Linked DNA regions of Homo sapiens. The protein of the gene in region 1 interacts with the protein of each later gene in a biochemical or structural test. Each region holds a gene or a part of one and is shown on either strand. Other genes may lie near its edges. The genes, in order: LRP6, MDK, KREMEN1 and GSK3A.

Evidence for each region.
Region 2: the proteins of LRP6 (region 1) and MDK form a complex in vitro, tested with the Homo sapiens proteins (one study listed by BioGRID).
Region 3: the proteins of LRP6 (region 1) and KREMEN1 interact in a biophysical measurement, tested with the Homo sapiens proteins (one study listed by IntAct).
Region 4: the proteins of LRP6 (region 1) and GSK3A form a complex in vitro, tested with the Homo sapiens proteins (one study listed by BioGRID).

What each region holds. Positions count from the first base shown.
Region 1 is NC_000012.12:12,117,045-12,124,076, forward strand, and holds part of LRP6 (low-density lipoprotein receptor-related protein 6 isoform b precursor), read right to left. Parts: intron 6,285-7,032; coding exon of another isoform or gene 6,235-6,284; exon of another isoform or gene 6,138-6,234; intron 5,562-6,137; coding exon of another isoform or gene 5,471-5,561; exon of another isoform or gene 5,448-5,470; intron 4,377-5,447; coding exon 4,082-4,376; 3' UTR 1-4,081. UniProt on the Homo sapiens protein: Component of the Wnt-Fzd-LRP5-LRP6 complex that triggers beta-catenin signaling through inducing aggregation of receptor-ligand complexes into ribosome-sized signalosomes.
Region 2 is NC_000011.10:46,377,563-46,384,302, forward strand, and holds MDK (midkine isoform a precursor), read left to right. Parts: upstream 1-4,106; 5' UTR 4,107-4,196; exon of another isoform or gene 4,197-4,494; 5' UTR 4,495-4,495; coding exon 4,496-4,571; intron 4,572-4,731; coding exon 4,732-4,899; intron 4,900-5,024; coding exon 5,025-5,186; intron 5,187-5,906; coding exon 5,907-5,932; 3' UTR 5,933-6,239; downstream 6,240-6,740. Other genes in the region: DGKZ (diacylglycerol kinase zeta), read left to right, coding at 636-667, 895-938, 1,429-1,549, 1,641-1,674, 1,907-2,006, 2,269-2,385. UniProt on the Homo sapiens protein: Secreted protein that functions as a cytokine and growth factor and mediates its signal through cell-surface proteoglycan and non-proteoglycan receptors. Binds cell-surface proteoglycan receptors via their chondroitin sulfate (CS) groups.
Region 3 is NC_000022.11:29,090,035-29,097,034, forward strand, and holds part of KREMEN1 (kremen protein 1 isoform 3 precursor), read left to right. Parts: intron 1-4,223; coding exon 4,224-4,386; intron 4,387-7,000. UniProt on the Homo sapiens protein: Receptor for Dickkopf proteins. Cooperates with DKK1/2 to inhibit Wnt/beta-catenin signaling by promoting the endocytosis of Wnt receptors LRP5 and LRP6.
Region 4 is NC_000019.10:42,239,598-42,247,150, reverse strand, and holds the start of GSK3A (glycogen synthase kinase-3 alpha), read left to right. Parts: upstream 1-4,548; 5' UTR 4,549-4,685; coding exon 4,686-4,968; intron 4,969-7,008; coding exon 7,009-7,196; intron 7,197-7,553. UniProt on the Homo sapiens protein: Constitutively active protein kinase that acts as a negative regulator in the hormonal control of glucose homeostasis, Wnt signaling and regulation of transcription factors and microtubules, by phosphorylating and inactivating glycogen synthase (GYS1 or GYS2), CTNNB1/beta-catenin, APC and AXIN1.

The DNA.
Region 1 (7,032 bases):
TTTTGAAACTATTATAAAATGGTGCCATCCCAAAAGTCAGAAGCCACACATGCACTACAAGTACTTTCTAAAATCATCTTTCACTACAAGTACTTTCTAAAATCATCTTTCTCTTGGTTCATTTTAGGCTTAAGAAATACCAAATAAAATTAAATTCCTTGGGTTTAAGAATTCTGATAATGTTTTAAACAACACCTGACTATAAGCTTCTTTAGGACTCAGTCCACACTTAGTGCATAGTCTCATCTGTAGATGCCCAAATATTTGTCCACCTACTGATAACTGGTCAACACACTCATATCCATACTCTAAATCAACTATGGATGCCATATGTAGACTTAAGCACCACACATTTATTAAGAGCTGACATATTTCGGATGTGAAAAGTCCAAGATTTTTGTTTCTGAATCTTGTTAGATACGTAATGATAACCAATATGTAATTCCTATGGCATGCAAATGAATGAAGTGGGACAAAGCTTCCCCTACAAGAAATAAAACAATTCAAAATATGACATTTCTAAGAATCTAATCTAGGCAGCTGCAGCCTGTTTACTGCATAGAAGTAGGCGTGCTTAACGCATACCTCTTCAGTCTCTATTATGACTACTGGTATCAAGTCACATAAATAAACACACTTCATTAACACACTAGGTAAGCTACAGCTATTAACTCTACTGGAAGTATTCTTCATTAATAGGGCTTTATAGCAAAAGAAAAAGATGATCCTCCAAAACTGCTACCTAATACAGATGATGGCTATTTTTAATACCTTCAATAATGAATGAGTTTCCTTCATATAAATTACTGACTTTAGGATATTTTTAAATGATAAAGAAATACAACCCTCAAAATCATCTTAAAATTGTACTGCTCAAAGCCCCTTCCCCCAATTACTGGCCTATATTAGATTAAAATGTACTTTAAAGTCTTCATTTCTAAGTACCTATCATCTCTGTAGAATAGGTGTTCTCAAACTTACTAAAGAATCAGAGATCTCTTGGTAATGTATCACAAGCTACTTTTATATTAAAATTAAAGTAACTACATAATCTTCTGCTAAACAGATATCTTGTGATATGCTGTAAGAGTGGCAGAAAGTGCCAAAGGCATAATAAAATTTCATGGAAGAAAAATTAATAGTCAGAAAATTCTATCCACCAACTCTCTTTGTTTCCCTGTGAATGTGCTATTATCTGACTTAAGCAAACAAAACTCCTTAAGTCACTATTCAGAAGACCACGACTCTGTTGGAGCAAAGTCCAGGCCTTAGTTATAAAAGACCACTTCAATGCAGAATAGCTTACTGTGGTGCACACAAAGTATGTTATGCTCAAGTTTATTTCTTGGACAATTTTAATCACATCAGTTAGTGCATATATTTTAGGACACATGTTCAAAATAAATACTTTTGCATATAAGGAATCTAATGAAACATTATTCATTTTCCCCCTTGGACAATGAATTTAATACACCAAATTTAAAAATCCCTTTTCTTTTTTCCCCCTAATTTGTGATCTCATGCTTTTCCTCTCAACTTTTCCAATTACAGCTTGTGTTTGATAATCAATATACAGTTTACTTAAGCTTAACTGTCCATGTAACCTAAGGCTCAATAAATCTTTCCAAATTTGACAATTCTCTCATTAAAAAGTACTCCCAGAAATATTAAGAATCCATCTCATCTACCCCAGAAAGAGAACACTGAGATTAGGCTGAACTGCCTTCAAATAATTTTAAACAAATTGGCACACAAATTAGTATTTTGAAGAAGAGGCCATTGCCATCGCAGTGCAAGCACGTGGACTGAGATCCAACAAGGCAATATTCTTCTTAGTTAATTAGAGTGCAAGTCTCCACATGGGAAGCCCACCAGATCAAGATGCACATTTAAATATGTAAACATATAGAATTCTCAAATTCTAACTGACACCCAGGTATTGCTAACCTTTCCATCTTCATTTAAGCATCAAGTGCCCTGTGTATCACAGAATCCAAGTTCAATGTCCATTTTGTCTGACACTGTGGGCACTTAGTTCCAGCAATGGGAAGAGTTCATGCTTGTCTGTTTTAGGATTCTGATAGATTTACCATTTGCTTATATGCAAAATCAAGTGCACCTGATTCTTACAGTCTCCAACAATCAGCATTATTCTGAAACCACAATTTTATCTTCAAAAACTTTACTTAGGTATTTTTAACTTGCATGAACAGTTACTTCACCCTTGCCCAAATTCTGAATCCTTTCTTCCACTGTTTTCTCTTGGGCCCTGAAACCCAGAGAGGCCTTGGCAAGACAGAATTAAAAAAGAAAAAAAAAAAATTCAATAATTAACTGACCAACACCTCTTAAGCTAAAAATACATTAGTTTAAAACCATTCAATTTTAGCAGAGAAGTGCTACACATGTGTAAAAAGCAGGAAACGAACTTCTGGCAAGGTGGCAGAGCAAGTGCTAGAATCATTCCACAGGTCAGCCCTGATAGCTCAAGATGTAGCAGCCCCAGTACCATACATGACAGCAGGTCAGGCAGATCACAAAAGAGGCTTCCATTATTCCCTTCCACCCAAATTCTGACAGCTGAGAAGTTAACAGTTTGCCTTCTCATTTAATCCTCATTGTTAAATTTGTTAAACTATCTTAATCCATAATGGGTAAGAGAGGACCCACATAAAAATATTGGGTGATTACAAGAATAATTTGTGGATAATTTGAAAACAGCCTAACATTCACAGTGGGTAACAGAAAGATATTAAATTCATGTCACACATTAGAAGAGGTATGTATGTAGACATTATTCTGAGAAAAACCGGTCTAAAGAACATGAAAACATCACAAACTGTTAATATAGGGAAAATCCTAATAAGAAAAAAATCTTTTTAAATAGATTGTCTCTAACCAGAACATATTTAAATGTTTTACTCAGAAAACAAACAAACAAACAAAATATATATATATATATATATATATATATATATATATATATATATATATATATAAATGATTTCGTACTGTGATATATGCTGAAAGTAGTGCAAGGATATGAGATTTACAACAAAAACATAATGGTTAAATTTTTAATTCTTAAACATTGTCTATATGTGTTGTAAAAAGACATTTTAATGAGCATTAAAACAATCTTGGAAGAAGAGAAATAATATGTCTAACTTTTGATCATTATGCAAAAACAGCAGTCAAATTGAAGAGCTAAGCCTACTGGGGAATGGAGCTAGAAGAAATATTAAAATCAAGTTTAATTTAGAAAATTCCATTTAGTCAATGCTTCAGCTTAAAAAAATCATGGTATCTTAGCAAAATGACTTACCAAGTTGCTGGAGGAGGCAGCAAGGTAAACATACCTAGAGAAAAAAATTCATTTTGACAGAGGTATGGATTCTAAAGGTAGGGACAGAGACTTGCACACACACACAGCTTCATGGCATCTTACCAGAGGGCTGATCTCTCCTACAACAGCAACACCCAGAATGGGTTTTTAGAAATATCTACTTTCCTCACTAGCACTGTTGGATTCCTAGAGAAAACAAAGCCCTTCGTCCAAGGTTAGTATTAATTGCATTTTTTTCCTTTCATCATTTCTTACTTGTTGGCCCTCAAATGTTAGTTAACTGAAGGCTATCTGGCTACATCCATGTATCTATGGTTTGCTGCTCTGAGATGGACTTAATTTTTCTTCTTCCTCTTTTTTATTTTTGGTATCAATAAAGCCCAGATATTCCTGGTCAGTGATGCCTTTATTATTCCTGTTTCCTTTGTACTCAGTTGCTTCACTGGGTTTAAGGCATGCTTTGTGTATTTAGTTTGCAAAAATAAAACTTTTAGTACAAATTTTTTTTATACAAACTTTTATGGCACAAGCAGCAAATCTGCTGTTTTAAGAAAATATATAAATATCCTTTTCTTCTGTACAAATATCTCCAGTATTCCCTACCCCATTTTATAATTTTAACTGTACATGGTCTGCCTCATCCTTCTCTAATAGCTCCCTCCCCCCCTCCAGATCTCAACCAAATTTATATTTACATTTTTACGTTGGAGGCAGTCAGAGGAGGAGGGCCCCTCCTCAGGAGGAGTCTGTACAGGGAGAGGGTGGCGGTGGGTAGAGGTGATGAGAATAGCTCCTCTCTGTGTATGGAGAAGGTGGGCAGCTTTCATAGTTCTCCTCTGCTGACAAGTATTGGCTTCGGGGTGTGGGAGGTGGGGGCACAGGTTCTGAATCATAGTTCAAGTCACTGGTATAGCCCTTGGCTGTTGCCACTGAGGTCATTCTCCGACTAGGAGCATAGTCACTGTCACAAACATCTGTGCTGCAGGGTGTGGTGGGGGGTGCAAAGTGCCGGTAGCTATATGGCCTGTAGCTGGTATAGGGAGAAAATAAAGAGAAGCAGTTAGTTTTACAAAAAAAAATGATTTCCCCTCTCAGAATAGAGGTATTAGATGTCAACTACCCTATGAAAACAATAAGCTACTGCAATTTAAATTTACACAGACCAAGAGGCAATTTTCAATGGCAGATTCGCTGAGGAAAATAGCAGGTACTTTCTTATTTGCAAATAAGAAAGTGGCAAGTGAAAATGAACAGGATGGGAATGCAGAGGTGAATTCAATCTAGCCTCTGGTTGTGCTCTTACATCTTCAAGTTAAACTGTATCACAGAATAAAAAATGACTATTCAAATTTGTTCTGCAGTTTCATAGCCCATGGGAAGAATGGGTTTTTACATATTTTACACTACTCAAACATGTCAGCATTCCCTCAACATTCTTTACTCCAAAATTAACCTGATGAATAATTAATTTAATGACATCTGAAGTCTTCATTTCTTTCTTCTGTACAATTCTGTACAATTTCTGTACAGTCCAGGCTGGATTTTGGTAGACAGCCTCAGGGGCATAACTATTCCATTGTTGTTATCTTAGCAAAGGGAAATTGCTGTGATTGGGGGAAACGGTTTTCATTCCCTGTGTATAGGTAAGTACCTCTCATAAGAGCAGCTTTAAACATCAAAATGATAAAATTTAAATGCCCATAAAGGGTCAGTGAATTTTCTAATGTATATTTCAGAGGCCTAGTTTATTTCTTACACTTGTTTATCTTTACAAGTGACATACAGTTGTTAGGTTTGTAGCACTGCTAACTAAAGAAAAAGGCATTGGAAAGAGAGAAACATACTAGTGAAAATAAGATCTGACCTAAGTTCTGGCTTTTCTGTCATTCCTACTTCTATTTTTAACTTCTTATACCTGTTTATTCTAAATATGGTAAAGCTGATCTTAAATTTATCCCAAAGATTTTTTCATAAGCTTTCTCATCAAAGTGACTACAAGAGAAGGGGAAAACCAAGTTAAAAACTGATACAACGATTCATAAAACACCTAGTGATACAGAGCACCACCAGGTAATATATCCCAGGAACCCAGGATACAAACCATTTGATATCACTTGGCTTGCTTCAAAAGAAATGGCTGCCAGATTGTTCACAGTCACAGATCAAATTCCTTGTTCTACTCTGTCTCCCCTTCTTACTACTGCATTTGATTAGTCTTTAAAAAAGAAAGAAAGAAAGAAACCAGCCTGGGCACCATAGCAAGACCCCGTCTCTACAAAAAATAAAAAAAAGCTAGCCAGGCGTGGTGACACACACCTGTAGTCCCAGCTACTTGGGTGGCTGAAGCAGGAGGACTGCTTGAGCCCGGGAGGTGGAGACTGCAGTAAGCTGTGATTGTGCCCCTGCACTCCAGCCTGGGTGACAGAGCAAGACCCTGTCTCAAAAAAAATAAAAATAAAAATAAAAAGGGTGCAAGGCTGCCAGAGACCAAAAGTTATATGACCCACTGAGTGAGTTCTCAAAGGCTTTTACTATCAATACTGACATGATGTCACAGTTTGTTTTGTTTAACTCTTTGTCCAATCAGGTGTCAATCCTTGGTGAAATTTCTAAGGTCAACATTTAAAAGTCCAAATACTTCTATTTTCATGAAAAAAAAAAAAGAAAACAAACTGAATTAATAAAATTTTTTCATGTCCCAGTTTAAACCAAAATCTCAACAAATGATGTAAGTTTTGACTCAGAGGAAACAGAAATTGGGCTTATACGGAAAATAGTTAAGCAAGAATAGTTTTTTATGCAATCGTGTTTATTCTGATGAGTGCCTTAGTCAATTTGAATTAAGGACATTACTTTTAAAAAATAAAATTTTGTATCTTTCTCCTTTCTCAATTTTCAGGCTTCTGCTTTTTCTGTTTTGGCTTCCTAGAAGAAGAAACTTGTGGCAGGGAAAGCAACATTACAACATATCATTAAAACAATCAGTTCACAGCCAAGGCTATTTCAGTCTTATCTAAGCTGAAATGAGAATTCTGAGTGAGATACTTTAAGTGGTTTCCACTTCATTTCTACACATGGGTGAGGTCGTATCAGGCCAATTTGACTGAAATGCTAGGAAAGATAATAGAAGATTATCTAGAGAGGATAGAAGATAGAAAAGATTATCTAGAAGATAACAGGCACTTGAGGGATGCCCATGAACCCTGGGCACTTCAGTGTGTAGATAGAAACTCTCAAGCTACTGATGGTCTGTTGGCCTTTCAAGGAACATAGAAGTGGAAGCTGACACAACAGTACTTGACCTGCTCAACACACTTTATAGACTCATAAATTAGCAAAAAGGAATAATTTTCTCTTTTTTGGCTTACAAATACACTTTATTTATTTCAATCTTTCTTTATTCCATGCAACTACATGAGAAATCTTTCACTCCAAATTGTAATAGCATATGCAAGCAATGGCTGAACTTACATTTCTCTCAACTTTTCTAAAATTCTGTGCTCTGAGTATGTTGCTGTTTTAAACTCTCAATTCTATGAACCAATCTTATCCCAATATTTCATTCTTAGAATATCAAACTATTTTGAAACCAGTCACTTTGGTGGGTAATTCCTCCTTAGAATACTGCCAAAGCCTGAGGCTGTATTTTATTATTATAAAAGCCAGCATTTGTGACTCTCTTAAAA
Region 2 (6,740 bases), on another chromosome or scaffold:
CCCTCGAACCCCCATCTCCATACCACGGTCAACTAAAAATGCAGAGCATACCAGGCCACTCCCCAACCTAGAAGCTTCTTTCTCAGCAGCCCTTTGGACGTGGATTCTCCCCAGGCCCCCCGTCATTGCACTGGGCTCCCAGCCCCCTCCCTGAGTTCACCTCCATGGTCCTGCCCCACTCTCTTCTCTTGGTTCTTTGAGGCATCAGGTGTTTGCCACCACTGGACTTCTGTCATCGCTGCCTCCAACTCTTCCCCCATCTTTCCGGAGCTCCCCCACCCCCATCCCCTTCGAATCTCAGCTTGGCTGTTTCCTCCTTGGAGAGATCACTCCCAGGACCCCCTCTGCAGGGGTGCCACATCACCTGTTCTGAATTCTTAAGAGCACCCCTGCTCTCAGAACTCCTTATTTATTTGACTTGTTTGTATCCCTGAACTAGAATGTAAGCTCCATGAGGGCAAGGCCTTCCTCTGTCTCGTTTCCCTGCTGTATCCCCAGTGCCTGGAATAGTGCTTGGTGTGTAGCAGGCACTCAATAAACTGTGGAAAGGATGAAGATGCCCCCAGTTGGGGTTGGGGAGGGCGACCAGCTGGCCTGTGCCGTAGCCGGTCACAGCACATCATGCTCTGTTGCAGGTCACTGCAAGGGGATGCTGCACCCCCTCAAGGTGAGGCCTCTCCCTCTGGGGCCCCTCCTTTCTGCCTGGTTGGGGGCAGGAGGCTCAGTGGGGTGGGGATAGGGCCCAGACACAGCCTTACACAAACACAGCCTTTGAGCTTCACGCACCAACGGAGCCCTGGGCACACATGCCTGGCCGGCACAGTCCTGTCCACTGAGGCACCAACCCAAGCCCAGGCCTCCGACTGCAGAGTAACAGGCAGGTATTCCGTGCAGGTGAAGAGCTGATTGAGGCTGCCAAGAGGAACGACTTCTGTAAGGTACTAGCTCCAGGCTCCAGTTCCTTCCCCCAGCAGCTCCCTCGGGCCCTGGGGAGCGAGGCCTCTGGGTTGGGCCAAGAGCTGACCTGCTCAGGTGCTGTCATCTGTCATCGTCTGGCCCTCTGTGGGATCTCCAGTGATCGTCCCATTCCACTTCACTGTATCTCTGTCTAGGCCACAATAGATGGCTCCTAGTAGGGGCTTCCTAGCTCAGTCCACCTGTCCCTGGTGCTTAGAAAGGAGCAGGTCAGAGGAAGCACTGCTCCAGGGCTTGGTCACCAGTGCTGCCAGAGAGCCCACAGGCTGTGGGGTGAGAGGCCCCTCCTCCGGTGTGCTCCAGAGAGACCCACAGAGGCAACTCAGGAGTAAGATGTGTGAGCGCACTCGTTTCAGGCCTGTGCTGGTGTACCCGGCTGTGGGCCAGCGTGTGAGCTCAGGGAAGGAGGGGTGGCCCCAGGAGGTCCAGCCCTGCCATGCCTCCTGCCCTCAGCTCCAGGAGCTGCACCGAGCTGGGGGCGACCTCATGCACCGAGACGAGCAGAGTCGCACGCTCCTGCACCACGCAGTCAGCACTGGCAGCAAGGATGTGGTCCGCTACCTGCTGGACCACGGTGAGCCGGGCAGTGGAGCCCAGGGCCTGGGGCCAAGGTGGGAGGAGGAGGGGCTGCCAGGCCTCTCTGACCACCACCTCCCCTTCTCCAGCCCCCCCAGAGATCCTTGATGCGGTGGAGGAAAAGTAAGTATCTGGGCAGTGCAGAACCGTGGTCACCCCGGAAACCACCCTTTTCCCCACCCCTCCCATTTTGTCAGGTCAGAGCCCATAAACTTCCTGGTCACATCTGTCATCCCCTGGGCCACCCCTATTGCCCCAGAGCCCTGAACTTCCTGCCCTTTCTGATGGCCCTTGGGAGACAGATGGGTGGATCAGGGGACGGGATGGGGTACACAGCCAGCCCCTGCTCCCCCAGCGGGGAGACCTGTTTGCACCAAGCAGCGGCCCTGGGCCAGCGCACCATCTGCCACTACATCGTGGAGGCCGGGGCCTCGCTCATGAAGACAGACCAGCAGGTGAGCAGACGGCAGGCAGGGAGCCCACGAGGGCACCAACCAAACCTTTCCCAAGGTCCTAGGCGGGAGCTGGGGCTGGGGGCTGTCCCTGGGAAGACACAGTCCAGACCCTGGGAAACCTGAGCCAGCAGGGGAGGAGCTGGTGGGCAGAGAGGCCTCCCTCCCTGACCAGGCCACAGGGAGGTAGAGCCCCTGCCTCTCAGCCTGCTAGGGGTTAGGCCTGCCTCTGGCCCCTGCTGATCGCAGCTCCGCCCTCCTCCAGGGCGACACTCCCCGGCAGCGGGCTGAGAAGGCTCAGGACACCGAGCTGGCCGCCTACCTGGAGAACCGGCAGCACTACCAGATGATCCAGCGGGAGGACCAGGAGACGGCTGTGTAGCGGGCCGCCCACGGGCAGCAGGAGGGACAATGCGGCCAGGGGACGAGCGCCTTCCTTGCCCACCTCACTGCCACATTCCAGTGGGACGGCCACGGGGGGACCTAGGCCCCAGGGAAAGAGCCCCATGCCGCCCCCTAAGGAGCCGCCCAGACCTAGGGCTGGACTCAGGAGCTGGGGGGGCCTCACCTGTTCCCCTGAGGACCCCGCCGGACCCGGAGGCTCACAGGGAACAAGACACGGCTGGGTTGGATATGCCTTTGCCGGGGTTCTGGGGCAGGGCGCTCCCTGGCCGCAGCAGATGCCCTCCCAGGAGTGGAGGGGCTGGAGAGGGGGAGGCCTTCGGGAAGAGGCTTCCTGGGCCCCCTGGTCTTCGGCCGGGTCCCCAGCCCCCGCTCCTGCCCCACCCCACCTCCTCCGGGCTTCCTCCCGGAAACTCAGCGCCTGCTGCACTTGCCTGCCCTGCCTTGCTTGGCACCCGCTCCGGCGACCCTCCCCGCTCCCCTGTCATTTCATCGCGGACTGTGCGGCCTGGGGGTGGGGGGCGGGACTCTCACGGTGACATGTTTACAGCTGGGTGTGACTCAGTAAAGTGGATTTTTTTTTCTTTTCTGCTTTTCTTCTTTTGCGGGGGAGGTCTAACAAGCAGCGGGGGCTGCGGGGTTGTCCTCGGGGTGGGGGACTGGACGCTGTCGACAGCACCTTCCTGGGGCCCCGGCTCCCGTTTGGTGGTTGGTCCCAGGGCCTGCCCGGTTCCTGACCTCTGCCCGGCGGCCGCGCTCGTCGGGGCCGGGGGCGGGGCCGATCCCTCCGGCTTCCCGCTTCCCGCGGAGAACAACAATGAAAGTGAAAGAGGGGTGGGGCGGGGGCGAGCCCGGGTTCTGTGGCCCATTTGCCCTGTGGCCTTGAGCAAGCCCCTCCCCCAGGCCTCGGGGGCTCTCCCGGTTTGGGGGAACCGGGCGAGGCAATGCCACAGGCCCAGGGTTAGAGGGGGTGGGCACTTGCAGCTGCCGATGTGGCTGGATCTGGAACTTCTCAGACGGCTCCTGTCAGCGCCAAGTTTCACCAAATCCAGGCCTGCGGGCTCCTCCCCCAGGACCCCCACTCGCAGTCCCTCAAGCCTGTGCTCCCGGAAAGGCACTGGGCGACCGCACCCGTGGCTTTCTCTGGGCGACCGGGTCCCAGACTCCCCCCAGCACAGCAGAGCGCTTCCCTGCCCACCCGCGGAAACCGCCCCAGGTGGGCCGCGCCCCCTCCCCAGCAGCCAGCAGGGCGCCAGGGCTGAGCCGGCCGTGGAGGGGAGCGGGTCCCGCGGGTTATACAGGCGCCGGGGCTCCGCGGCAGGCAAGAGAAGCTGAGGCCTGAGAACGGCCCGGGCCTTGGCGTACGGCAGGGGACGACCTGGGATGGGGGCAGCGGGCGGCGGCGCAGGGAGTGGGCCGGGGGCCGGTGTGCGCGGGCGGGACGGGGCCCGGGGTCGGGAGACCACCGCTCGGAAGATGGGGCCGGGAGAGGCCGCCGTCGCAGCGCAGAGGGCACCGGCGGGGAGACGCGAGGACGCGGGGCCGGGAACACGGACGCCGGAGTAGAAGCGCGGGGGGCGCGGGCTGGAGCGGGGGCGGGGACGCCGGGGTCGGGGGCGGTGCGGGTTTGAGGGGAGGGGGCGGGGCGGGTCCTTCCCTGGGGGGGTGGGGAGAGGGGGCGGGGGCCCATGTGACCGGCTCAGACCGGTTCTGGAGACAAAAGGGGCCGCGGCGGCCGGAGCGGGACGGGCCCGGCGCGGGAGGGAGCGAAGCAGCGCGGGCAGCGAGCGAGTGAGCGCGCGGCGGCCCCTGGTCCGCCCGGCCGCGGCCGATCTAGGGGCTGGGGGCTGGAGGCGGGGGTGGGGGTCTGAGCTGCGTCCTGGGCTCGAGGCGTCCCCCGGGGAGTCGCCTCTTAGCGGTGCGTCCGGGCTAGCGGCGAGGGGCCGCCCCAAGTCTTCCCACCGCCGCCACCTTAGCAGCCCGACTTGGGGCCTGGAAAGTGGAGCACGCGGAGGTGGGAGGGCCCTGCACGCGGCCCCCGGTGGGGAAGGGGACGGGCCAGGGATTCAGACTCGGGCTCTCCCCTCAGGATGCAGCACCGAGGCTTCCTCCTCCTCACCCTCCTCGCCCTGCTGGCGCTCACCTCCGCGGTCGCCAAAAAGAAAGGTGATGGGGGATGATCGAAGGAGGGCTGGGGACGGGCAGGCGAGGCCCCTCCACTTCTGGGCTGGGCCGCCTGGGTTCCTAGCCTGGAACCCCAGGAAGGCGGCTCCCGAGGGAGTCTCCCCGTGCCCCAGTCCTGAACTCTGTTCCTCGCGCGTTGTAGATAAGGTGAAGAAGGGCGGCCCGGGGAGCGAGTGCGCTGAGTGGGCCTGGGGGCCCTGCACCCCCAGCAGCAAGGATTGCGGCGTGGGTTTCCGCGAGGGCACCTGCGGGGCCCAGACCCAGCGCATCCGGTGCAGGGTGCCCTGCAACTGGAAGAAGGAGTTTGGAGGTGAGGCGGGGCGCAGTCAGAGGGCAGGAGACGGGGGGCACAGCCTCGCCGAAGCCTGGGCGGACCCTTGGCGGAGGGCGGGGCCGCGGGCCGCGCAGCGCTGACCTGGGCCGCTCTCTCGCCAGCCGACTGCAAGTACAAGTTTGAGAACTGGGGTGCGTGTGATGGGGGCACAGGCACCAAAGTCCGCCAAGGCACCCTGAAGAAGGCGCGCTACAATGCTCAGTGCCAGGAGACCATCCGCGTCACCAAGCCCTGCACCCCCAAGACCAAAGCAAAGGCCAAAGGTCAGCGAAAGGAGAAGGGGGTGGGGCTGTCGCGGGGGGCTGCCCCCCCCCCCCCCCGCCTGTGAGGGGACAATTCCAAGTTAAACCTTAAGTTTTGAGTCCTGGCCAGTGGCTTCCTGACATCGCCTCACTTGGCTTCCCTGCCTGGAAAAGTCTGAAGATGGGCACTACAAGAGAGGCCGCAGGTGATGCTGGGGACATAAATCCTCCCTGGCCCAAATAGGGACCAACTCAAACTACTCCATTGGAGCATCTGGCTTAGGACCCAGGGAGAGTGTCCTGGAACGGCTTGCCTTTGTCAGCTCTCCAGCCACGGGCAGCATTTGGTCAGCTCTGCCCTTTCTAGTGTTGGGAGGAGGTCAAGGCCCACCCTGGGCCTCTCAGCTCACTCGTGACTCAGCCCAGCGAGGCCAGCAGGGCAGGGGTGAATCTGCCCGCTTCTCAGGTGAGGAGGCTGAGGATGCCCAGGGCTGCTGTGACCAGGACTAGGACTGGAAACTTGAAGGTTTTCTGATCCCAAGTGGAAATAGGAAGCTGGGGATGTCCCATGTCCACATCACAATGGCTGCCCCATCCCCTGCTTCCGAGTCAGCTGATTGGAAACCACTAGGGGGCAGAATCTTCTCCTTCCCTGATGCCCGGGTGTTTGTGGAGCCGGCGGTCTGCAATGGGTCAGCCTAACTGCTGATATGGTATTAATATTTCTTTCTTGTTTTACAGCCAAGAAAGGGAAGGGAAAGGACTAGACGCCAAGCCTGGATGCCAAGGAGCCCCTGGTGTCACATGGGGCCTGGCCCACGCCCTCCCTCTCCCAGGCCCGAGATGTGACCCACCAGTGCCTTCTGTCTGCTCGTTAGCTTTAATCAATCATGCCCTGCCTTGTCCCTCTCACTCCCCAGCCCCACCCCTAAGTGCCCAAAGTGGGGAGGGACAAGGGATTCTGGGAAGCTTGAGCCTCCCCCAAAGCAATGTGAGTCCCAGAGCCCGCTTTTGTTCTTCCCCACAATTCCATTACTAAGAAACACATCAAATAAACTGACTTTTTCCCCCCAATAAAAGCTCTTCTTTTTTAATATATAAAAGCCCCTTCCCAAGGAGTTTGCTGTGGAAATGTGTTTGGGAGTGGGAAGGTGGGGAGAAAGACCAGGCTGTAGGGACTGGTGGGTTTCAGGGGGCTTGGTGGTGGGTGCTCTCCAGAGCTCATGGAAAAAGCAGAACAATTACAAACATTTCTTCCAGGGCCCCTGAAAGGGTGCTCCCCATCAAGTCACCTAAGCCTTTCGGTCCTCATCTCCCTCAGGGACCAGGGCTGGGGAAGGGAACCTGGCTGACTCACTGGAACCACCACACCCATCTCAGCCTCACCCAGTCAAAGGTCTTTTGATACAACCCACAGCCAATCAGGAAGGTTCTACCCATGGGGGAGAGCAGATGCGAGGGCTGCGTGCCTACCTCACTGCCCACCTCCCCCCTTCCCACTGTCATGGAAACCCGAGTGAGCCACCAGGTTGACCCCTTTCCTCTTGCCTGTGTGACCCAGGCCTCCACCCTGCA
Region 3 (7,000 bases), on another chromosome or scaffold:
TTATAAACATGTAAGCTCCATGAATACAGGATATTTGTTCATCTCTGTAGCCCCAGTGCTGTGAACAGTGCCAGGCACATAGTATTGAATAAATATTTGCTGAACTAATTAATGAATAATTTCCTAGACATTAGATCTCTTGCTTTCACTCATTCTCTTTTCACTGAATACGTAAATAAACAGTTGGCTCTGTGTGTGTGTGTTTCTTACTGGTTTAAGCCGCTCCTTGCTTATTTAGCCAAAGCTTACATCAGTTTCGTAGCAGTAGAAAATAAGGGAGGCTGGGAGCTACATGATAGACCTTATGAACACAAAGAAGGAAACAGCAGACACTGGGGTCTACTTGAGGGTGGAGGGTGGGAGGAGGGAGATCAGCAGGAAGATAACTGTTGGGTACCTGGGTGATGAAATAATCTGTACAACACACCCCTGTGACATGAGTTTACCTGTGTAACAAACCTTCACATGTACCCCTGAACCCAAAATAAAAGTTAAAAAACTTAACATGATCACGATAGAAAACAGTGTGGAGGTTCCTCAAATGATTCAAAATAGAATGACCATATTCTAGCAATCTCAGTTCTAGGTATATATTCAAAGGAAATAAAATCACTGTTTTGAAGAAAAAAAATAAGGGAGGTAGGGTCCTATTTACCTAACATACACCCTAGTACTCTGATGAAATCAAGATGCGCTAGATGACTTTAAATGCAGAGCATTCGAGTTGGTTTCCCTTGCTTTTCTCTGTAATTGATATGTACTGGGCAAGTCTGGTCAAAAAACAATCACAGAATCTGATACACTGCCTCAGTTTCACCAGTGTAACTGAGAACAAGATTGGGTCTGAGAGGAACAGACCCAAGCAAAGAAGCCTGCACTTTCCCATTTCCACTCTCAGATGCCATCTCGTCTCCATGAGGACTGTCATGTGTGTGCATTTTATTTATTTATTTATTGAGACAGAGTTTCACTCTTGTTGCCCCAGCTGGAGTGCAAAGGCACGATCTCGGCTCACCACAACCTCCGCCTCCTGGGTTCAAGCGATTCTCCTGCCTCAGCTTCCCAAGTAGCTGGGATTACAGGCATGCACTACCACCCCCGGCTAATTTTGTATTTTTAGTAGAGACGGCGTTTCTCCATGTTGGCCAGGCTGGTCTCGAACTCCTGACCTCAGGTGATCCGCTCGCCTCGGCCTCCCAAAGTGCTGGGATTACAGGCTTGAGCCACTGTGCCCGGCCATGGATTCTTTTTATTACACATTCTGCTACATTCTTTTGTATTACAAACCAAGTCATCCGAGTCTCAGGAACCCCACCTGTCCTGCAGTTTGCTATGTATAGCTAAGACCTTCCATTGATCTATTGAGCTGCATCTCTGATTTCTGGCCCCTGGATCACCCTTCACACTTTAAAAAAAATTTTATTTTTATCCTATATATTTAAGGGGTACAGTATGATGTTTTGATGTACAAATTCTGATAGGAGAAAAACATGTATTAACACACAGCAATTAAAATTCTAGCAATTGGCAAGGGTTGGCTGATGTTCTTAGAATCATCTAGTCTAGTGGTTCTCAAACCTGATTGCTTAACAGAACCACCTGGGCTGCCTTTCAGAAATACAGGTTTCAGGTCCTGCTCTAGCTCTGGGATTGGGATAGAGCTCTGGTGTGTCTGGTGTGGTACATACCACACACATTGTCTCTCTCTCTCTCTTTCTCTCAGATCACATATATTTCTTGTGATAGTAAGTGTTGTGAAGCAAACAAAGGGCAGAAAAATAGGAGTAAAGATGATGAGAAGGGCTTTCTGAGAAGGTAGTGTTCAGTCTGTGATGGGAAGTATTAGGGGAAGAACATTTTGGGCAGGAAATAGCATAGTGTGTTCACAGAATTAAAAGCAGACCAGTGTGGCCGAAGCACAGCGAGTGAGTAAGGGAAGAGCTCTGCTTCATGGGAGGAAGGGGCTGAGGCTGCATCACAGAGGCCTTGCAGACACCGAGGAAGAGTCTGAGTTTTGTTTTGAGTGCCATCATTCTTTTAAGAACTATGGAGAATGGATTGTGAGAGAACAGAAGTGGAAGCTGTGAGACCCAAACTGTTCTCTGATGATAAAGGGGACTATACTGGTGGCATCAAAGATGGAGAGAAGGCAGTTTCAGGGTGTATGTTTTAGGGAAGTCAACAGGACTTGCTGACGAATCGGAAGTGGAGTGAGGGAGAGAATGGGAGAAGCAAGAATGATGCTGAGGAGGGTCCATTAGAGGCAGTATAGGGTGTGGTCGAGTGCCCAGCTCCCTTATCTGTAAAATGGGGTACTAAGGTACCTCTCTGGGTTGGTGGCAAGTTGACATTTGTGAAGCACTTAGACAGAGTTTGGCACATGGTAAAACACTGTGTAAATATTAGAAGTGATTTGGATGATGTTTATTCATCCAAGGTCGCACAGCTGGTCAGCAGCAGGTCCAGGACAAGAAGCCAAGGCTTAGTCTCTTGGTTTAGTGCATTTTATGCGACACTGAACTGCCTCCTTCAATTTATGCCTCCTTTGAACTTATTTGTGCAGACTCTTGGTAGAGGGGTTTGGTCCTTATGGTACACGAAGAGTTGCACTTATCATAACACATGAGCATTGCACCAAACATGATAAATTGTTAGGGTTGGTGGGGTGTGGTGGCTGACACCTATAATCCCAGCACTCTGGGAGGCCCAGGTGGGTGGATCACTTGAGGTTGGGAGTTTGAGACCAGCCTGGCCAACATGGTGAAACCCTGTATCTACTAAAAATACAAAATTAGCTGGGCATGGTGGTGGGTGCCTGTAATCCCAGTTACTAGGGAGGCCGAGGCAGGAGAATCGCTTGAACCTGGGAGGCGGAGGTTGTGGTGAGCCAAGATTGCAACACTGCACTCCAGCCTGGGCAACAGAGTGAGACTCCATTCAAAAAATAAAAATAATAAAAAATAAATTCCTAGGGTTTCTTGCATAGGTGGACATTCAGATTATTTTGGCTATCCATAAAATGGTGCCATTCCAGACAAAACACAGGGCCTGGATGGTCAGAGGAAGGAGGTGCTGGAAGAGAGATGTTCTGTGGATAGTTTGAAGTATTAAAAGAAATATCTGCCAGAATGTGTTCATGTTGTTCACACGCTTAGACTGGAGTAGGCACATGGATGACAACAGGAGATGGCATTAAGAGTCCTTAATACTGGAAGTTATAGGTCAGTGCATGCCAGGAGAAGGAAAGAAATGCAGCTAAGAATGCTAGTGTAACTCCCCCAGGTTGTCAGTTTTCTAATGATATATCTTAAAGAAGTGTTTGAAGTGCTTCTGTCAGTTTCAACTAAGCTAATTTTAAAAAATTGTTCTTTGTACTGTGCCTGTCTCATGAACCTCTTCGAGTTTAATGCATGCAATATGTGGGTGAAAATCCTATCAGCCTCAGTCCCCATCCCCCAAAGTCTGAGAAGCAGATTTTAGAAACACATTGTTGCACCTGTGAGGATTTGTCATTTTATTAAATTGGACCTGAGACCATTTTCAATGTGCCTCATCAAAAGAATTTCAGAAAGAGGTGAGAGAAAATGCCAGCCCGGCCCTTCCTCCCTCATGTTGACTGTCTGTTTTGTTCCACCTCTATCTCAAACAGCATGGGGAGGACTGTTCTTCATTACCAGGGAATGTGAGTCATTCCCAGATTTGTGTGATTGGGATTCCAAAGCATTGCTGTATCCGATGATCTTATTAAATCCAAGTGTCAGTGCAGCCTTTCAGACTGTAGGGAAGAGCTCAGTTACAGCTGGTGACCTGGTTCCAGTTACCACACAGAGCCACTGGCGAGAGCAGTGACCCCCTCAGAGTATCCAGAATTCCACATGGATGGCTGTTACCAACTGTTCCCAGATTTAGGGGTTTCCTGGTTCACTTCATGGGCTTCAGTACACTTCAGCTCCCTGTTTATTTCCTAGTTGGGATCTGTATACTTTAGGGGAAAATGTTCTAGTGTCTGTAGACAAGCTAGTGCCAAGATTAGCCTAGCTTTTTGAGGGTACCTTGTTTCAGATTTATTCAGCCCCAGAAGTGTTAACTGCACTGTGTCCAGGATCTAGCAAGACACTATCCATTTCCAGCTTGGTCCAAACAAAACAAAACATCAACCAAAGAGGGAGGAAACCATGAATGTTGCCAGAAAATTAGTTTGCTCTGTCTTTTTTTTCTTCTAGAGTGTTTCACAGCCAATGGTGCGGATTATAGGGGAACACAGAACTGGACAGCACTACAAGGCGGGAAGCCATGTCTGTTTTGGAACGAGACTTTCCAGCATCCATACAACACTCTGAAATACCCCAACGGGGAGGGGGGCCTGGGTGAGCACAACTATTGCAGGTAAGATGGGGCCACTCAGTACTTTAAAAAGATAGATATATATCTAGTCTCTTCTTCCAACCCCTTTCATCCCAGCTCACAACTAGGGGAAGTCTTTTGACCAACTCAAGAGACTTATCTTGTCAGTTTTAAAAATATTTCTTTCACACCTTACACACACACACACACACACACACACACACACACACACACACAATTTACCACTCTTTTTTTTTTTTTTTGAGACGGCGTCTCGCTCTGTCGCCCAGGCTGGAGTGCAGTGGCGCGATCTCGGCTCACTGCAAGCTCCGCCTCCCGGGTTCACGCCATTCTCCTGCCTCAGCCTCCCGAGTAGCTGGGACTACAGGCGCCCGCCAACACGCCCGGCTAATTTTTCGTGTTTTTAGTAGAGACAGGGTTTCAACCGTGTTAGCCAGGATGGTCTCGATCTCCTGACCTTGTGATCCGCCCGCCTCAGCCTCCCAAAGTGCTGGGGTTACAGGCGTGAGCCACCGCGCCCGGCCAATTTACCACTCTTTTCAACATGGGTTGTTTTAATGCTGGCTTTGAAAGCTCTGCTTTTCTGTCTGATCACTTCCTTGTCTCTTTGGGAGGGTTTTCTTAGTTAGCCCTACCACCAGTGGACAATACACAGTTAGCAGAGCAGCCTACACTACCGAGAATGTCGTGGTCAGACAGCACCATGTGTGACCCAAATCTCCCTCTGCTTCTGAGCAAAGGAAGCTGCCTACATTGTTGTGCCTCCGGCCAGCCCAGGATAACCTTGCTCTGGGAACAGCTGTATCCATCAGATGTGTGCCATTTACTTCCTTTTAGTCGACTAAGGTGTTTCTTTGCTTTTCACCTCCCGTCTGACTCTAGCAGGGGATCTTAACCTGACATCTATGGTGCTTCAAAAGTGATTCACAATTTCCTGGGGATGATCCATAGCTTTGATCAGCTTCTCAAAGTTATCTGTGATTGAAAACAAGTTCAGGATCACTGGTATGTAGGGTCCAGAACAAAGACTGTAAGCACTTTTGGTTATACATTTGTGCTGCTTATGCCCAAGATCCTGGTAATGAGACTTATGGTTCAGCAATGCATTGAATTTAATTATTATTAGTACAGGTGCAAAGGCAGCCTCTTGAGCTACTGGGACAGGGAAAAATGATTGTTGAACTATATACCCTGTCCCTGGTTCTACATACATTGGAATCTCAACCATGGCACTGTTGACGCAGCTGAGCCAACATATATTTTCCTGTATTGTATGGGCCACACTGTTTACCTTCTGCCCTCTACATACCTTTGCTAACGCTCTAGGGCCCTTGTAGTTGTCTCAAAGTCACCAGGCCTTTAGTCTATGTTTTCTTTATCCCTATACCTTTCTCTATCTTGTATCAACTGACCATTCCCTCCTAGTTGCTATTGACTTATTTTGTTTGTTATAAAAGTGTTAAAAGCTTATTCTTAAAAAAAAAAACTTCTCCAACACCACAAATATATGTGGTTTAAATAGTTAAAATTCCCCATTTTACCTATTTTCCCTGAAACCCTCCCCACCAAGTCCCAAGTCCCAGAGACAACCAATTTGGGTATTTGCCACTTCACATTTTGCTATCTGTTGTATTTTATTGTTCAAGTTACACATGCTTATTAAATAGTTCTTTTATATTTTATTTTCCAAGTTATACATGTTAATTTATTTTTTGCATAAATTAAAAAATTAGTCCCACCCCATTTTTTATTACCTTCCCCTAGGTTTTCTATTCATAGGAATAGTTGGTTGGGTTGGGAAGAGTGTTTAGGAAGAGAGACAAGTATTTGGTTTTTGTTTTTCCATAGTTGCTTATCTTCTTGTTCCAAAATATCTCTTGGTAGTAGGCTGTTGGTTTATTCTATTGCTCTGTTGCTTCCTATCAAGCAAGTCTTCTCAGAAGAGCTCATGTTTTTAAGTCTGACTTTAAGGTAAATTTTAAGTTTCCAGTGAGGCCTAATTTATGTGAAAAATTTTTCTTTCTTGTGGATTAGCACCCACTTCTACTCACAGGCTTCTAGAAATGTACCCATAAACATCCATTAAGAGAGCAGTGAGAGCCAGGAGGGACCACCTTTCTCCTTAGCCCTGATCAGCCATCACATCAAACCCTCTCGTTTGATTTGATGGAATGCAGGAGACCTGAACTATTTAATACCAGTTTATACTTTGGAAAAGGGAGGCTGAAATTGTTGATTATCACATCAAAGAGCCCAGGCCTTTTGTTTTAGCACTGCAGCAAAGTCAAGGATGAATTTGCTTGTTCTTTATTAAGCTATTCTGATGCTTTTCAATATGGTTTTGACATTGATAATAAACAGTTTTCTAAGGGCTTTACCAAATAAATACATCAAAGCTGAACACCGAATAGAGGGAGGAAAATGACAATGAAATACTGTTTAAAGAAGGGCTTTGTACAAGTTCTCCTACTTTGATTTCTCAACTGACACCCGACACCATGTTTGTCTTGTGTGACTTTTTCAGACCCATCACATTAGAGATGTCTGAGAGTTGGTGAGTGATGGGAATGCACTTTTCTGGGCTCAAAGTAACTGGCTTAGAAGGGAAGGCAGAGACTGGGGAAGAGCAGAGTTG
Region 4 (7,553 bases), on another chromosome or scaffold:
CACCCTGCCCACACCCCTCTCTTGTTGCTCTGAGTTCAGCTGGGAGTCCTTTGGAGAACAGCCTGTGGTGTCTCTTGAAATGTAGACCTTGCAAGGTAACTTGGTGATCTTCAGGTCCAGGTATGGGAACACCCCCAGCCAGCACACAGCCAAGGGACTGGCTCACTAGTCATCGATGCTGTTGACCTACTGTGTGTCCAATACTTAAGAGCTGCAGTGTTGTAGCTCCTTCAGTATCCAGTAAGGTAGGGGCAACCAGTGCTGCTAAGTGACTTGCCCAGGGCCCTGTGGCTGAGCCAGGACTTCAAAGCCCACGTTCTTTCAACAACTCCTGACTTTTCCTTCCTAACACCAAGATAGTTGGATCCAGATCAGGCTTTCAGGATCAGAGGATTTGAGATGAGCTCATAGAGCTAGAAGCTGAGATTGGAGAGCTTGAATCAGGGATGAAAGAATTAGGAGGAATAATCCAGGCTGGAAGTACCCTTAGAGACAAGTTCTGTCTCCACCATGCAGGTGAGGTGCCTGAGGCCCAGAAAGGGGAAGGGGTTTCCCCAAGGCCACACAGCTGCTAAGAGATGGAGTGGCAATTGAGGGCTTGTTGGACTGGCTTCGCCATGAAACTCCACCCTGTGCAACCCTGAGGGGGAAGAAACGTTGACTGGCAACTGCTACCCACTCGCATCTCATTTCATGCCAGCCAGGGTGGGTGGTCCCAGATGATGTCGGTTGGCAGGGAAGAGAGGATCCAGGGCTAGGATACTGGCAGGAAACCGAGGCTCCCGAGGCGGCCTGCGGGAAACTGCTCCCTCTCCTGGGTGATGTAAGTCATTCCCTGGGGTGGGGGCCACTGGGCTATTTCTGGAAGCTGGGATGAGACATGTCTCCTGGCAACATAGTTGCAGCTGAGTTGGTGGTGGTGGTGGGGTGATGGAGAAGGGGATGTTGTCACTCGGGAGGAGAGGACCCTAACTACTGGCCTCAGCCCCTGAACCCAGTGCCTTCAAAGCACCTCTAACCACATCTAATATGGAATCATAAGTGCTCAGCTCAGCTCCCTAACTGCTGTCCAGGTCAGACCACAGCCCTACCAGACAAGTTGCCCCAGATTCTGGCTGTGTAGGATGTCACAGGTGGCATTTGGCCTTGAAAACTCCAGCGGCTACTCTAACCTTTAATCGCCCACCTAAATCTATTAGCTAGCTGGCTTGAAATGTTCCTGCAAGAAGACACCCTTGGTCCCATCCATATCCTCTGAGATCCTTGCTTCCAAGTAGAAAGCCCTTTACAGATGCTCTCAAGGCACTTCACATATTAATTAATCTCATCAGAGACCTCCCTGCTTTGTACGTGTAGCCCCAGTACCTCCACAGACTCTCAAAGCCCCTTCCCAATGCTTCTCAACCATCCCTCACCCCTTCAGGTCGCTCAGAGATCCCCTTGGTCACCAGTAATTTCTGTCTCCCATAGACCTTTTTTTTTTTTCTTTTTTTTCAAAACAGAGTCTCACTCTGTTGCCCAGGGTGGAGTGCAGTGGTGCAATCTCAGCCCACTGCAACCTCAGCCTCCCAGGTTCAAGAGATTCTTGTGCCTCAGCTTCCCGAGTAGCTGGGATTACAGGCGTGGGCCACCACGCCCGGCTAATTTTTTTGTGTGTTTTTAGTAGAGATGGGGTTTCCTCCATGTTGGCCAGGCGGGTCTCGAACTTCTGACTGACCTCAAGTGATCCACGGCCTTGACCTCACAAAGTGCTGGGATTGCAAGTGTAAGCCATCGCGTCCACCCACCCATAGAACTTTTAGCAGACAGCCTAAGTCCCCTCAGGCTTCTCCACTGGTCCCCAGTAATTATCCTGTCAACTAAGCTCATCAAAGACCCCTTCACCACTCCACGGACTCCTCTTAGCCCTTCTAGACACCCATAGGCCTCTCTCAGACGTTTACAACCCTTCCTAGCATCCCTCTATGAACATTCTCATCCTCTACAAACATCCTGATAGATTGCAGACCGTCACCTTCAAACTCCCACGGACCCCAATCCCCTCGTGGCGGTTGCCCACACGCAGCGGCGCATGCCCCACGGGTTCTGGCGGTTAAATAACCCTCGCTATCCTGCCCCATGTCGCCGCCCTTTTGAGCCGTCTTGGTCCCGCGTTGGAATCCCTAGGCCAAGGGGCTCGACTGAAATTTTTACTTTTTGACTCAGAGCTGCCATCAGAGGGCAGCAGGTACCATTTGGCTGGGAAACTGCAACTCCCAGAAACGCCCGCGCCTAGCCGCGCGTGGTGCGGCCACCTGCTTTGTGAAGGGAGCGGAAGTGTTCCGCACTTTGCCTTCTGGGTAATGTAGTCTCAACAGGCTTTGGCGCTACCGACCCCCGCAGTTGTGTCCGCGGGGAATTGCAGTCAGGAACAAACTGAGTGGACAGGACTTTCTTCTGGTTTCAGAAAGGACAGGACAGTTAGTATAAGCACAAGCTCGGATTAACGTGAAGTCCAGAGACTCCATTTCCCACCATTCCAGGATGCGGGAGGGGCTGAGAACGCTTTCATTCTACTTCTAAGTATTTCCGGGGGAGGAAGAGACACATACAGACACAGGAACTCTGTTTCCCAGCGCCTTTTGGGGGCTACTCTCCTTCGGGTATTAATCGATAAATAGGACGACTCACTGAGTACACAAAACCTGAGGCAGCTGGCTTCCTTATTTTTGGCTTTCCGGGATCTTGTAATTTAGGAAGCGGAGGATGCAAAACACAAGAGTGGGAGGCCCGGTGCCGTGGCTCAAGCCTGAAATACCAGCACGTTGGAGGCTGAGGTAGAATCGCTTGAGCCCAGGAATTGGAGACCAGCCTGGGCAACATGGCGAAGCCCACCCCGCTACCCCCCACCACCCCAAAAAACAAACCAAACCAAATTAGCTGGGCGTGATGGTGCACGCCTGTAGTCCCACCTACATGGGAGGCTTAGGTGGGGGGATTGCTTGAGCCTGGGAGTTAGAGGCTGCAGTGACCTGTGATTGCGCCACTGCCCGCCAGCCTGGGCGGCAGAGCGAGACCCTGTCTCAAAACAAACCAAAAACTGAAAACTGAATGGTGGTTCAAGACAGGATTTTTTTTTTTTTGAGACGGAGTCTCACTCTTTTCGCCCAGACTGGAGTGCAGTGGCGCGATCTCGGCTCACTGCAACCTATGCCTCCCGGGTTCAAGCGATTCTCCTGCTTCAGCCTCCTGAGTAGCTGGTATTACAGGCGCCCGCCACCACACCCGGCTAATTTTTGTACTTTTAGTAGAGACGGGGGTTTCGCTATGTTGGCCAGGCTGGTCTCGAACTCCTGACCTCGGATGATCCGCCAGCCTCGGCCTCCCAAAGTGCTAGGATTACAGGCGTGAGCTACTGGCGCCCAGCCTGAGCCACAGCGCCAGGCCCAGAAATGACATTTCCGTCTTTTTAATGCTCCATTCAGCTTCCTGGTGCGAACCACATTGCTAGGAAAAGCTAGACTGTATCCGAAGACTAGTTAGTGTTCTGAGAAACCGCCGGGAACTTTGTTTCCCGAATCTTTGCAGAGTTGCGGTTAGAGAGGGGACATTTTTTCTTTCCTGATCTATGGTCACCTGGAACTTAAAGGTGCTTGGATCCATTTTCCAGCAGTCCTTGATCGACCTCGGCTCTTTCTTAAAGAAGGACCTGGGGGCGAGGAAGGAGGCGCTGAAACACTTTTAAGTCTCTCCAGGGAACTGCCGCAGTCTCTAACCTTTCGTTCACACGCCCCTGATGGTGGCCATTGGACTTCGCTTCCCGGCAAGCCTCCGCAGACTGGCCTCACAGAGGGTCAGGTCTGGACTATTCCCCAGCATGCTTGGAGCTCATGGGCGATCCCGCCCCCTCAGTCAATGGGGAGGATACGTCGAACTCCATTTCCCAGAACACACCAGGGCTCGCTGTGGCAACTGCACTGAGGCCTTGGTGCTGACTACACTTCCCGGCAGGGACTGCGGCCCAGCGTACCTGGAAAGAGGAGCGCGTAAACCTACTCCATTTCCTCGCCCATCTCCGGAACTGCAGTATCCACCTGGGGCTTAAAAACCACCTGAGACTCCATTTCCCGGCGTGCTTTAAAAATCGCTTTACACCTGCAATGCGGTGAGGGCGTGGCGACGACTCCATTTCCCGGCTTGCCTCACGGCCCGAGACCCGCAGGTTCACGCGGGCCGACTCAATTTCCCAGAGCGCACCGAGCTCTGGGAGGCATACACAGCTAATAGACTGAGTGAGTGGACTCCGTTTCCCAGCGTGCATCAGGCTCTCTGCTTCCTAAAGTGCTTCAGGGCTCCCCGTCGTACAGTCGGCTGACAGATTACCCTGGACTCCATTTCCCGACGTACAGCGTGACCCGTCATTCCCGCCCATCATTCCCGCGGTCTACTCTGAGGCTTTTGTGGACTTCATTTCCCGGCGTGCCACGCGGCTCTCTGTGCGGGCCGAGGGCGGTGACGGCGGCGCGGACGACAGCCGGACTGCATCTCCCGGCGTGCCCCGCGGCGGGCGCTGGGCCGGAGCCGGAGCCCAAGCCAGAGCGGCGCGGCCTGGAAGAGGCCAGGGCCCGGGGGAGGCGGCGGCAGCGGCGGCGGCTGGGGCAGCCCGGGCAGCCCGAGCCCCGCAGCCTGGGCCTGTGCTCGGCGCCATGAGCGGCGGCGGGCCTTCGGGAGGCGGCCCTGGGGGCTCGGGCAGGGCGCGGACTAGCTCGTTCGCGGAGCCCGGCGGCGGAGGCGGAGGAGGCGGCGGCGGCCCCGGAGGCTCGGCCTCCGGCCCAGGCGGCACCGGCGGCGGAAAGGCATCTGTCGGGGCCATGGGTGGGGGCGTCGGGGCCTCGAGCTCCGGGGGTGGACCCGGCGGCAGCGGCGGAGGAGGCAGCGGAGGCCCCGGCGCAGGCACTAGCTTCCCGCCGCCCGGGGTGAAGCTGGGCCGTGAGTACTAGTGGCGCCCGTGTAGGGTGGTGATTAGGGTTCCCAAAGCTCCTCAGACATCCATCAGATTCTTTCATGTGCTTAGATAGGAGCTCGAGGTCACTGTGCCTCCCCATACCGGGGATCCGAGCCCTCTTCCTCCCAGGAAAAGGAGTCTTGGGGTTACCATCTCTTGGAGATCAGAATTACTCGTGGATCAGAATTACTAACACTTAAAGAAACGGGTTACAAGTCTCTGTTCTTCCATTATTGAGGTCTTGGGTCCTTGAGCCTTAAGAACAGGTATCTGATGTTGCTATTCATTATAATATTGGATCAGAGGTCACAGTCGCTTGCAAATGGGGATCTAGGGTTATTGTCTCCTAAGAGAACAAGAATAAGACCAACCCCGAAAAAGAGGGATCTGCATTCCCTGTCCTTCAGAAGATGGGGATTTGGAGCGAATATCACTTAGAAGCAGGGCTTTGAGGTTACTGTGTTTTGTCCCCAAAGAATAGGGCCAGGCTTTCCAAACCTGGTACTCAGATCATCTTCCCTATTAAAACCAAGACCTGGCATCATTACCCACCCTAAATCTTGTTGAGCTGTACTGCCAATGGTGAGAATTAATAGTTACTGCCTTTTAGATATAAAGACATTGGGAGTCAGCATATCCTTCAAACCAAGTCCATAGTCCATGTTTTAAAATACATGGCTTGGTGTGTCTCCTTTAACAAAAATGGAATGGAGCAGGGTAGGTCACAGTTTCCTACAGAATATGGATCTAAGGTTATACTTTTTTAATAATTGTTCTAAGGTATGGTGTCATTGGCTCTGAAAAAAAAAAGTGATGTAGGGTTATCTCCCTCTGAAAGAACTTGTCACTGGCCCCTCAAAATGGATTTGGTGGCCGGGCGCGGTGGCTCACGCCTGTAATCCCAGCACTTTGGGAGGCTGAGGTGGGCGGATCACCTGCGGTCAGGAGTTCGAGACCAGCCTGGCCAACTGGTGGAACCCTGTCTCTACTAAAAATATAAAAAATTAGCTGGGCGTGGTGGCGGGCGCCTGTAATCCCAGCTTCTCGGGAGGCTGAGGCAGGAGAATCGCTTGAACCCAGCAGGCGGAGGTTGCAGTGAGTCGAGATCGTGCCACTGCACTCCAGCTGGGCAACGAGAGCGAAACTGTGTCTCAAAAAAAAAAACAAAAAAATGGATTTGGTTCATCAGTTACTCAAAGGGGTCACTATCCTCTAAGAATGGCACCAAGGTTTGCCACCATTTGAATAATGGGAATTGGGAATTATAGCTTTCCTTCAAAGGACTGAGGCTGGAATAGCTCCTTGATAATAAAGGTCAGGTTCATCATTATCATAATTTGGTGCTTGTCCATTAGGGACCACCCACATATAGTGAGGGGTCTGGGTCTCTGGACCACTCAGATGAAGAGGTCAGGTCAGTGTTTTTTTCTAACCTCAAAGTACCAAAAAGTGAGGGTCAGGGCACTGGCACTTATAGCAGGAGAGGACATTCATTTCTGTCACCAAGAACCAGTAAAGTTACCAGCTCTACAGGGGAGGACTTAGAGGTCAGTATCCTCTAGGCTGTGAGAGAGGTTAGTGCTTTCCTAAAGTAGGAGTACCTCAGGGTTACTGCTCCCTGAAGTGGAAGAGGCTCGGTCAAGCTTTCTCCAAATAGGAGGGGCCAGAGGGCAGTAGATCCAGAGTAGATGGAGTCAACATCTGATGTCTCCCAGTACCAAGATGGACCAGTGATCTGTTGCTTCCTAGAAGTAGAAATTTGGGGTTGCCAACCCTTGAAGCAGAGAGATTTAGGTATCAATATCCTCCTATGTGGAGGGGAGCAGGACTTAAGATTCCCAGAAAGGAAGAGGGGAAAAGTCACTGGGAAGGTCCCAGCATCCACCTTTCCTCAAAGAGGAGGAGGGGACAAAGAGGTCCCCAACGAGCTTCCTGCAGAGATTTCCCTTCCTCCCACAGCCCCAGGATAGGGTGATGCGCAGGCAGGATGGGTCAGTGGATCGTGTATCCCCTTTGTTCCCCAGGTGACAGCGGGAAGGTGACCACAGTCGTAGCCACTCTAGGCCAAGGCCCAGAGCGCTCCCAAGAAGTGGCTTACACGGACATCAAAGTGATTGGCAATGGCTCATTTGGGGTCGTGTACCAGGCACGGCTGGCAGAGACCAGGGAACTAGTCGCCATCAAGAAGGTTCTCCAGGACAAGAGGTTCAAGGTAGCTTGGGCGGGATGGGGACAGGGAGGTTTGGGGACTGGGTGTGACTGGTGGGAGAACCTGAGCCAGAGAGCTGGAGGCTTGGGTTTCAGAGCCATGGGCCAGAAGAGAAGGGGGAAAAGAGGAAATGAGACCTGTGAAAGATGGGAAATGTGGATCCCAGGAGAGCCCAGAGCTTTTACTGGGCATTTGCTCAATGTAAGTGCTTAATAAGCAAATTCTTGTTTAATTTACATAAAGATTCTCTGAGGGTAGGTACTGTGGTTATACCCATTCTAAGTGTAAGCTAAGTTTAAAAGCAGGGAAACAAACTCAGGTAAGAGGATTGCCTGAGGTCATAGAGCAAGTGCCCCAGTC